Linked DNA regions of Homo sapiens. The protein of the gene in region 1 purifies or fractionates together with the protein of each later gene. This does not show direct contact. Each region holds a gene or a part of one and is shown on either strand. Other genes may lie near its edges.

What was found.
Region 2: the proteins of ZFYVE1 (region 1) and SUCLG2 purify together in Homo sapiens (affinity purification with mass spectrometry; 2 studies listed by BioGRID). This does not show direct contact.
Region 3: the proteins of ZFYVE1 (region 1) and KCTD6 purify together in Homo sapiens (affinity purification with mass spectrometry; 2 studies listed by BioGRID and IntAct, with this or other methods). This does not show direct contact.

The regions. Positions count from the first base shown.
Region 1 is NC_000014.9:72,974,975-72,978,627, reverse strand, and holds part of ZFYVE1 (zinc finger FYVE domain-containing protein 1), read left to right. Parts: intron 1-393; coding exon 394-491; intron 492-583; coding exon 584-701; intron 702-2,906; coding exon 2,907-3,077; intron 3,078-3,653. UniProt on the Homo sapiens protein: Plays a role in the formation of lipid droplets (LDs) which are storage organelles at the center of lipid and energy homeostasis. Regulates the morphology, size and distribution of LDs.
Region 2 is NC_000003.12:67,497,603-67,501,255, forward strand, and holds part of SUCLG2 (succinate--CoA ligase [GDP-forming] subunit beta, mitochondrial isoform 2 precursor), read right to left. Parts: intron 694-3,653; coding exon 532-693; intron 1-531. UniProt on the Homo sapiens protein: GTP-specific succinyl-CoA synthetase functions in the citric acid cycle (TCA), coupling the hydrolysis of succinyl-CoA to the synthesis of GTP and thus represents the only step of substrate-level phosphorylation in the TCA.
Region 3 is NC_000003.12:58,495,082-58,498,734, forward strand, and holds part of KCTD6 (BTB/POZ domain-containing protein KCTD6), read left to right. Parts: intron 1-3,283; exon of another isoform or gene 3,284-3,631; 5' UTR 3,632-3,653. UniProt on the Homo sapiens protein: Probable substrate-specific adapter of a BCR (BTB-CUL3-RBX1) E3 ubiquitin-protein ligase complex mediating the ubiquitination and subsequent proteasomal degradation of target proteins.

The DNA.
Region 1 (3,653 bases):
TGTAAGGGTAATTTATATCGAACATTCATTCTTTTTTTTTTTTTTTTTTTTTTTTTTTTTTGAGACAGAGTCTTGCTCTGTCAGCCAGGCTGGAGTGCAGTGGCACAATCTTGGCTTACTGCAACCTCCACCTCCTGGGCTGCAGCAATTCTCCTGCCTGAGCCTCCTGAGTAGCTGGGATTACAGATGTGTGCCACCATGCCCAGCTAATTTTTGTATTTTTAGTAGAGACAGGGTTTCACCATGTTGGCCAGGCTGATCTCGAACTCCTGAGATCGGGCAGATTGCTTGAGCCCAGGAGTTCACAACCAGCCTGGGCTGGTAAAACCCCGTGTCTATTAAAAAAACAAACAAAAAACAAACAATAAGCTAGCAGAGTGTTTCCTGTTTCAGGCCTGCTATGAGAGAGGCGAGGAAGTCAGTGTAGTGCCCAAAACATCTGCTTCCACTGACTCCCCCTGGATGGGTCTCGCAAAATATGCCTGGTCTGGGTGAGTTTAAACAACATGGCTCAAGGTTTTCTGGTGCGTTTGTCTCCCCAGGCACCTGGCTGGGTAACAGTATTGATTTGCTTTCCTTGTAGGTATGTGATCGAATGTCCTAACTGTGGCGTGGTCTATCGTAGTCGGCAGTACTGGTTTGGAAACCAAGATCCTGTGGATACGGTGGTGCGGACAGAGATTGTGCATGTGTGGCCTGGAGTAAGAACTGTTGGATTTCTCTGTTTTTCTTTATCTTGTGTCGTTCAGTTTTTCATGTGTATAGAAAACTGGAACCTGCTTAAAATTAAGGTTAACCATGAATTTCAGAATGTTGGCGGTTTAGAAAGGCATGATCTGGAGAGCTTTTTTGTTCTCTAGACCAAAATTGTTTTTATTTTTTCTTGCATATATATTAGAAGTACAACTTTAAATGAAATAAACTAAAAATCTATAGTTTTACTCCTTTGGCAAATAAAACGTTTTTGCATGTTCTACTCATTCATTTTCTATATGTGTATGTTTTTCTAGATGCAAATATTTACATGCCTTTTTCCTGCTTTTTTTCCTCACAATGCTATTTTATTTAGTTTTATTTCCACCTTTTTAAAAAGATCATTAAAATGCTAGTCACCATCTTCGTGTAAGAAAGCCATTTTTTTGTTATAGGAAATTTTCTTGAAGTATATTCTAAGAAGTGGGATTCCTATAGACGCTTAATCTTTTTTTTTTTGAGACGGAGTTTCGCTCTTGTTCCCCAGGCTGAAGTGCAATGGTGAGATCTTGGCTCTCTTGGCTCACTGCAATCTCCACCTCCCGGGTTCAAGTGATTCTCCTGCCTCAGCTTCCCGAGTAGCTGGGATTACAGGCACGACCGCCACGCCCGGCTAATTTTGTATTTTCAGTAAAGACAGGGTTTCTCCATGTTGGTCAGGCTGGTTTCAAACTCCCGACCTCAGGTGACCTGCCCACCTCGGCCTCCCAAAGGGCTGGGATTATGGGCGTGAGCCACCGCGCCCAGTTTAATGATTATTTTTTAACTTTTGAATTCCAGATGTCAGAAATACAAATCTGTTTGTGAGGCAGTGATATCATGCTTTCATTCTGCATTAAATCACTGTTCACACTTAGCATTGTCCATAAATCACAACAAATCCAAAACCTTTTCCTTTCATGGAAAAAAGGCAAGTGATTATCCCTGAGGGACTTATTTTACTCTGTGTCATTGTCCTCGCTGGGTGATTCCTAAAGCCACCGTTCAGCCTAGGAGTTCTACCTGCAGGTCCTCTCCTGAGCTTTCCTGGATCCTATAGGTACCATAAAACTGAAGATTTCCTTATTTTTTAAACTTTTTTTTTTTTTTTTTGAGATGGAGTCTTGCTCTGTCACCCAGGCTGGAGTGCAGTGGTGTGATCTCGGCTAACTGCAACCTCCACCTCCTGGGTTCAAGCAATTCTCCTGCCTCAGCCTCCCGAGTAGCTGGGATTACAGGCGCGTGCTACCACACCCAGCTAATTTTTGTATTTTTAGTAGAGACAGGGTTTCACCATGTTGGCCAGGATGGTCTCGATCTCTTGACCTTGTGATCCACCTACCTCGGCCTCCCAAAATGCTGGGATTACAGGCGTGAGCCATCGCACCCGGCCGATTTCCTTATTTTTCTCCTCCTTTTTCTAATTTTCTGGCCCACTGAAATCTGTTATTATATAGTAGTCTCATTATGGGAGCCCACCTCCTTGGCATAATGGTTTATTCCATTATGTCCCAAGGATTTAACGTGGCCTTATAGCGAGAAAGTAAAGGTGGTAAGATAGTTTATGTTCCAGGAAAACAGGACTGCAGTAATTTACTCTCAGGTCACATTCTTCACAGTCCTCGAAATTAGGAGGATACAGATGCCTTCCCTGCTGTTTGTTTGCTCCTTCCTTCCTTCCTTCCTTCATTCATTATTCAGCATACATTGTTGTGTACCTTGTGCCCAGCACTGAGCTAGTTACTTTACAAAATACAAAAATGACAAAGAGTTATTGTCAGGGAGTTCAGAGTTTAATAGGGAAGTCAGATACCTAAATGGATATTGTACTTAGACACACAGAAATAGGATTCCTAGAGATGTCCAAGTATTAGAAGAACTGAGAGGAAAGGTTCTTAACTCAGCCTGCGGTGCGGGGCCCCCTGGAGGAGGTGTCATCTCCTGTATTATATGGGCTTAGTAAGTCCTGAATTGAACAGCTACACATCAAGTCTTATGGTCACTTTGAAGAGAATAAAGCCAGAGGGATTCCTGGTGTGTCTCCGTTCTTCCCTGCCAGGGAGTTAGTGGTTCTGAGTTGGCCACGGTGAGTGTGCAACTCACCAAACATCCCTCTTCCTCCTTCCTTTCACTCCCTTCTCAGAGCATGATGGAAGCCTGCGTTTTCATTTCAGACTGATGGGTTTCTGAAGGACAACAACAATGCTGCCCAGCGCCTGTTGGACGGGATGAACTTCATGGCTCAGTCGGTGTCCGAGCTTAGCCTTGGACCCACCAAGGCTGTGACTTCCTGGCTGACAGACCAGATCGCCCCTGCCTACTGGAGGCCCAACTCCCAGATTCTGGTATGGTGTGCCAGGATGCCCCTCCACTCCTGGCACAGCCCATCCTACTTAATGCCGCTTTGCCCTGTGCTAAGCTTGTTCTGTGAGGGAGACGCAAACATTTTCTGCCAGTGCAGTGAGCTCTGTGAGTACCGGCAAGGGGAGGAGTCGTTGAGGCAGCCAGTTTCTCTTTGCCCATTGATTTCCCTTCGTGTTTTCCTGCAAGTATTTTCTGTTTGGTGAGTTTTAGTTTCCTTGTGTGTGACGACCAGTGAATATTGCTTAGATATGTGAGGACCCAGATAAGAATCTGGAGGAAAAGGGGTCTTTAGAGGTTATTTAGGGTCATCCTCAGCTTGATCCATTAACGCTACAGCACCCAGAGCAAGAGAGCACCCAGCTTCAACCCAGACACTTAGTGAAAGGAAACTCACTGTCCACCAGGCTTCCTTTCCATTCTCAGATAACGCGTTACTAGAAAGCTCTTGTCCTTGTTGAGCTAACGCCACCTGCCTTAGTTTCTGCTTGCTCCGGGGTCTTGTTGACTTTCTCAGCTGAGCAGACATGTACCATACCTACCTGCCTCTCTGTTTTGTT
Region 2 (3,653 bases), on another chromosome or scaffold:
TATTTCCTCTGATAAAGGAATTTTGTTTTAAACCTAAATTTCAGAAGAGTTCTGCATATTAATACTGAGTTGAGCAGCAAAGGTTCTAATTTTTTACTAAGCAAAGTTTAACTGAGATGTTTTAAGTCAATATTTCTCAGTTGGGGTGATTTTTGCATACCACAGCCATTTGGAACTGTCTGAAGACATTTATTTTAATTTATTGATTTACATGGGTTTATTTGTCTTCACAAGTGGGGGTTGTTAGTAGTATCTAGAGGTTAGGATGCTAAACATCTTATGATGTACAGGACAGTAAAGAATTATCCCACCCAAACTCCCAATAGTGCCAGAGTTGAGAAATTCTGCTTTACACCAGTGACCATTAATCAAAACAACTTTGAGAAGAAACTTGGATACTTTCCTAAGACTTTTCAGCTACAAAAAAACTTATGTGCTTACTTCTTCTTGGTAAGTGACATTTCAGAAATCAAGGTTTCCTAAATTCTATAAGAATCCACAAAGCATTCTTTTGATATAACTGCTTCTTACCAAAGCAGGCAATGTTCCCATCTAGTCCTATGTATTTTAGATCATATTTGGCAGCTTCATTTTCAATGGGCTCATTCTCTGATTTGTCGTCCATAGCAAATATGTCTTTTTGTCGGAATTCTGCGTTGTCATCAAAGTTTATCTTGGCATCAAAACAGACAACTAAATAAAGAAGAAAACAATCATACTTGAATATCTCTTGAGGATCTATAAATTAAGTTCTTCAGGCTGGTAGGCACAAGCGAAGGGAAAGTTAAGTACTGTCATTTTTTTTCACATGTTACAGGCAGGAGAGGCTGCTTTGGCTTTCTTGACCTTTAAATTTTAGGGTTTGGTCCCTGTTGTCAAGGGACTTACGTTCTAGTAAAGAACATAGTAATTTCTACCTGTTGTTCTCATTTCAATAGAATAACCCCAAAAGTTGCCATCAACCATTAAAAGTTACAGACTGGCACAGCTTCATAGATACAGCTTTGATTCATTATTTTTATTATATATTTTTAGTATTTAACCACTAATTATCACCTTTCTCTTCTATGTAAAGAGAGACTAGACAATATTATTAATTATTTTGTCCCCTATTGTCCTTTTCTTGATATGGTAAAGTGAAATTTTTATTGAATCAGTATCCTGTCTAGTATTTCCAAAAGATTTAGTGGAAAGAATGCCAGACTAGAATCGCTCGATTTTTATTTGATCCTTAACTAACTCTGTAACATTTATTAAAAATAAAAATTGTATACACTTGAGTCTTGAACAACATGGGTTTGAACTGTGAGGGTCCACTTATAGCTGGATTTTTATTCTCAAGATGTAAAGCCCCAGAGGGTCGACTTTTCACATACATGGGTTCTGCAAGGCCAACTGCAGGAATTGTGCAATATGAACGAAGTTTGGTATATCTGAGATTCCTGGAACCGATTCCCTGCATATATTGAGGGACAACTGTGTATTTAAAGCATACAACATCATGTTTTGATATACATATAACACAGTGAAATAATTAAACACAGTGAAATGATTACTACACTGAAGCAAATTAACACATCCATCTTCTCATATAGTTTTTGGTTTTTCTTTTTGGTGTGGGAGAGCACTTAAAATATATACTTTTAGCAATTTCCAGCATACATTACTAACTCTGTAACCTTGATAAAATAACCTAGTTCTTCTCTGGGCCTTGGTTTTTTAATTGGAAAAAATGGCAATAACAATCCTTAAAACAAGGGCCATGCCCTTGATTCGTGCAGGACCATCTTATGGTGCTTCAGATTCAAGTTATAAGACACGAAAAGACCAAGACTGGTCAGTCACAAAGCCAGGATGCCAGGCATTATTAGCACAATTGTCTCTAGTTTCTGGAGCTGGTGGAAATCTCCTGGACCCAGCAAAACTCATTCCATAATAGGAGACAGACTACAGGGCACTTTCCTTGATTTACAGATCTCCTATACATACAATCAGGGAGAGACTGCAGTGGAGAGGGTGGCATTATTGGTATCTGGGTATCTGACCCCTTTTATTATCTCTCTTAGTGTAGAAATTAGTGTTCTGTGATGCCATGTCATCATAATGTTTGTTTGTTTGTTTATTTATTTATTTATTTATTTATTTCGGAGACAGAGTCTCACTCTGCTGCCCAGGCTGGAGTGCAGTGGCGCAATCTCGGCTCACTATAACCTCCACCTCCCAGGTTCAAGCGATTCTCCTGCCTCAGTCTCCCAAGCAGCTGGGACTACAGGCATGTGCCACCATGCCCAGGTAATTTTTTGTATTTTTAGTACAGATGGGGTTTCACCGTGTTAGCCAGGATGGTCTCGATCTCCTGACCTTGTGATCTGCCCACCTCAGCCTCCCAAAGTGCTGGGATTACAGGTGTGAGCCACTGCACCTGGCCAATGTTCTTTTACTTAACTTGGGATATTGATAGCCAGGAATCTTTGAACAATAATTTACAGATACTACCTATTCTCCTCCAGCATTGCTGACAGGCACCTGACTCTTGAAAGGGAAACAGCCACAGAACATTTCTCACTCACTGAAAAGCAGTGGCTATAATCTCCTAATTATACTTGCTTCTTATGAAAATAAAACATGGCTGTATATGGCATCTTGGCGTTAGAGACCCCAGGTAGAGGGTTTTCTCCAAGGGTTTCCCTACCACAATATTCAAGCACTTTGATACAAATCTGTGTAGACCAGCATATTAACATCTAAGAATACTTGTTATAAGTATATATATAGACCGCACATGACTTAAAGTAGCACTGAGCGACAAGAGAGAATCTTATATGGAAGTTAATGTCTGCTTAAATCCTTAGTCTTGCCCCAAAATGCCCAACCACTTTGTCCACACATTGTGAATGGTTGGAGTGAATGAGTAATTACTTTCCAAAATATTGAAAGCTTATTGACAGAATCCTACAATTACCAAACGAATTGGCCAATGTTCTCTGCTTGCTACAGGGGAATTTTCTCAGCAGTTAATGACTGGTATAATAATCAATAAAAAAGCAACTTCGTACATGGCTTTCCACTAGGTTTATAAATGCATTCTAATTAATTTATTAGTAATTTTAGCTCCTCCATTACTCATTGGCAAGACTACTTATAACTGACACCTTCAAAATGAATGGGCTAAGGTTATCAAATTGACTTCCTAAGGGAAGAGTTTCAAATAAAGGAATTCTTGGTTGAGATCAATAAACAAGTAAATCAAAATAGTTTCAAGCTGACCTTTGCTCCTTACAAAGACTACAGTTACAAGCTGCTTCAGAGAGAGAATAATTAATGGGTATGTATTCAAAGTTCAAAAGGCAATCCCAACTAAATGCCTGCAAAGCTAGATTTTCAGAGGATGTTTTTCTGTGGTATGACGTTCTCTCCAGGGAACAATCTTGACAGAACTTTGCAGTTAACCCAGAGCTTCAAGATGGTGACTATGGGATAAAAGGGGTGTATATCTACAACGGTCCTGTGCCGACTGTTAATTTGTAGAGAAAACTAAACAACCTAATTGGATCATTGCATGTATGTCTAAGTGTTTTGGGAAGTTAAAAACACTACCTAAATATGAAGTAATTTATTTAGAGGACTTAGGACTTAAGAAAGGGGATTCAAAT
Region 3 (3,653 bases), on another chromosome or scaffold:
TTCAAAACCATCTTTAGTTTTAGTAAGGAAAGTCACTATAAAGGAAAAATTTTTTATTGTTACCATTCCTGGTAGATTTTCTGAAATATTAGATATTTCTTTGCTTTCATCAAGTAAAATAGGCCTATTTGATACCCATTTCAAGATCTTCCTTCTGCTGCCTGTCTTGTGGTCATTTAACTTCTCATTAAGCCCTCCACTGGAGACTGTGCCAGAAGGGAGAGAAGATGAAAAGCAAATGAATCATTTTCTAATTGTTAGTAGCTCTGGAAAATGATTCAGTAGAAGAGATTGAAACTATTCTGGAAATTCTTTGGGATTGTATTTCATTCATCTGCATCGTTTCAGAGATGTTCCTAATGGTCGTCAATTCAGAATTCAGAAGCCGATCATTATCCAGCTATTGGATAACAGGGAATTTTTCATGCTTTTTTTTTGTTTGTTTGTTTCTTGCTGTATTTAAGCATCTCCACAGAAGATATTTAGAAGCAGGTAGAGATAAAATTTAAACTAATCAATACTGTTTTTTCCCTTTGAACTCTTTAATGCACAATTTGATTTCTTTAGACAGTTTACTCATTGTTATTGGAAGTGACTAATAGTAACTTTGCTTCAATTTATTTTGATGTATCTTATACACAAGTATAGGAAGGCTTTTGGGTGGTTTTTAAGAAACATGGGCTGTAGATTCCCATAATTGCTTTCCTGAATTATTAAGCGTGAGCTTTCATTACATCTTTGTACCGGAACTTTTGCTTTTGCTGTGGAACAGATTCAGGGACATCGTCTAATTTTTTTTTTTTTTTTTTTAGATAACTGCTCAAGAAGTTACCTTGTTTTGATTTAGCAGTAAAAAAGAAAAAAAGGGTTAATAGTGGACAGACTTTTCGTTAACGGCTGCAACATTGATGTCTGCTTTTTTCCTTGTCTTTGATCTTCTGTTTCTCATTTAATCATTTGGATATTCACGGATTGGAGTTCTTTATGTCACTACAGACAGGACAGCAACCGTTATTCACACTAGTTGAATGGGTTCCTGCCTTTTTTTGGTGGGGGGGCCTCAGGAGAATTTTTACAAACCCATTATGACTGTTTAGTTAGGCTGAGTTACTGTAAAATTTGTAAATAAAACCCTACTGGATGGATAGGGTTAATAGATGGCTATAGAGAGTTTAAAGTTAAGCTTTTTCAATTTCTTGTCTCTTGGATTCTGTTCTTTCAATTTCTACCCTAGGAGGGGATTTATGGAAAAATCTAGACTAAGAGTCAGAACATGCAAGTTCTTATCTAGTTACTTCCCAGCTGTGGCGCCCTCAGCTAGTCACTTAATCTGCCTTGTTTCTCTGTTTTGCATCTTTAAGATGAGGATAGTAATCCCTGCTCGGCCTACTGGTATCAGGAATGTTGTAGGGGGAAAAAAAGTCTTTCATGCCCCTGTCTATTAAATTGTTTCTTCCTTCTAGAATCCCTTCTCAGGTTGTCCGAATTTTCTTTCAAGGATTCAACTGAATGGGCTCTTCCCAGAAGTCCTCTATTTCCCATTTGAAATCTTGCTTTTCCCCTCTCACGGGCCTCTGCTGGTCCATCTGTTATACAGCACTTTGAATTCTGTTCTGTACTTCAGTCATTGCATGTTGCCTTCCATTATAGATGGAAAGCTCCATGAGGGCAAAGATTGTCTTTTTCCTCTTTCTGTGTGTCCGCATTGCACATAGGCACCCCCTCCACTCCATAGGTGACCCACAATAATTGTTGGCTGAATGAATGATTATTGAGGCTGTCAGAATGAATACTTTGGGTGATGGGAAAATGCCAAAGATGAGCATCTTACCAGAACTTTTGGATGAGTGGCCTTTTAAATTGCTCAGTTACTAATCTGTTGTTATCAGTAACTGAATCAGATCCTGGCAAGACAAATTGGCAAAGCCCATTTCTTGGTCCTGTTTACTTCGGATACTATTTGTGAAGCAAGTCAGAGGAATGAAAGACTGTCATAACAGTCTTGAATTTGACATTTGTTCCATTTCTCACCCCATAGCATGTGGAGGCCTGTCTATATCCAACTGCTGAGTGTAAAGAATAAAAACTGACTGCCCCATAGTCTGGTCCACATTTTAGTTGTGTGCTTTGAAGGATTTGCAAGGTAGAGAAATAGATGCTTCAGGCTCTGATTTCAGCCCATGCTGTGCTATGCAAATGTTCTCTACATGCCTGAGTGACCTTTTGAGAAAGAGCCTTTGTGATCTTCTGTAGCTAGGGCTTGTTCTGGGAATTCTGTGCCAGATTCCTCTAAAAGTGGGAAAAGTGAATCTGTTAAAGGACCACGTAAAAAAGCCAGTGCTTTTCCTGGATGAATACCAATAAGTCCATGTTTCTTACCATGTCTTGCCAGAGCTTTAGAAATTTGCTCTGCAGTTTGCTTTACAGGTTGATTTGGGATTGAAGTGTGTGAGAGGGAACTGACTAAGGCAGTTCAGTAGCTGGGAAACTGTTTGTTTAAATGCTTTTGAATTGTAGATAAAAATAAATTCACATTGGCATCATTAGTATCTGAGCATTTCTCAGTGTCTTAAGGCTGGCTCTCCATGAGTGCTGGCTGATTGACTCTCATCTATATCGGTAAGGTTCTTTTTGCCCCAAATTGTGCTCTTTAACACTTCGGCATTTAAATCACTTTCTATTTGTTTTAATTGTACAAAGAGAAATACATCATTATTTAAAAGCATCATCTTTTTTTTTTATATTGTAAGATAAATACCATTCTGATGTATTTCTCTTGGAAAGGGATGCTGGTATCCTGGGAGGTTTATGATTTTTGATGTTTTTACTCAGGTGATTGGCTTGTATAGCTGAAATGCTGATGAAAAGGAGTTTTCCCTTCTCCCTTTTTCTTTTCTTTTCTTTTTTTTTTTTTTTTTGAGATGGAGTCTCGCACTGTTGCAGGGGCTGGTGTGCAGTGGCACAGTCTCGGCTCACTGCAACCTCCGCCTCTCGGGTTCAAGTGATGCTCCTGCCTCAGCCTCCTGAATAGCTAGGATTACAGGTGCCCACCACCACGCCCAGCTAATTTTTTGTATTTTTAGTAGAGATGGGGTTTCACTATGTTGGGCAGTCTGGTCTTGAACTCCTGACCTGGTGATCCTCCTGCCTCAGCCTCCCAAAGTGCTGGGATTATAGGCATGAGCCACTGCGCCCAGCCTGTCCCTTTTTCTTAAATGACCTTTTTGGTGAGGACCATTATAGGTTTGTACCAGGATAAGGTTGTAGAGTTAATCATAATATTCTCTTATATAAATTCTAAAAATTGATGTTCTAAGAAGAGAGGTAGAATTTGAATGACTGGGTTACTTCCTAGACTCTTCCTCCTTCTCTTAAGTACAGTATAGTTCTTTCTCTGAAAATCTTCAGTCTCTTAGTTCCAGATGGGTTCTCTATGGTAAGAATACAGGACATGTAGAAGGCCCTAGGGGAATGCTTTCTTCCCCAGATCTTTGCCCTGTAGTAGGTTTCAGCTGAGCAAGGACGAGTAGTTTTTCTGGTGTTTGGCCTCCTCTGTTGGGTGGAAAAAGACTTTCTTCTCTATTTTCCTAGTTATATATGCTATCATATGTCTGTTTTTCTCCTCTTGAAGTTTCCCTGAAACCTGGGCTCTT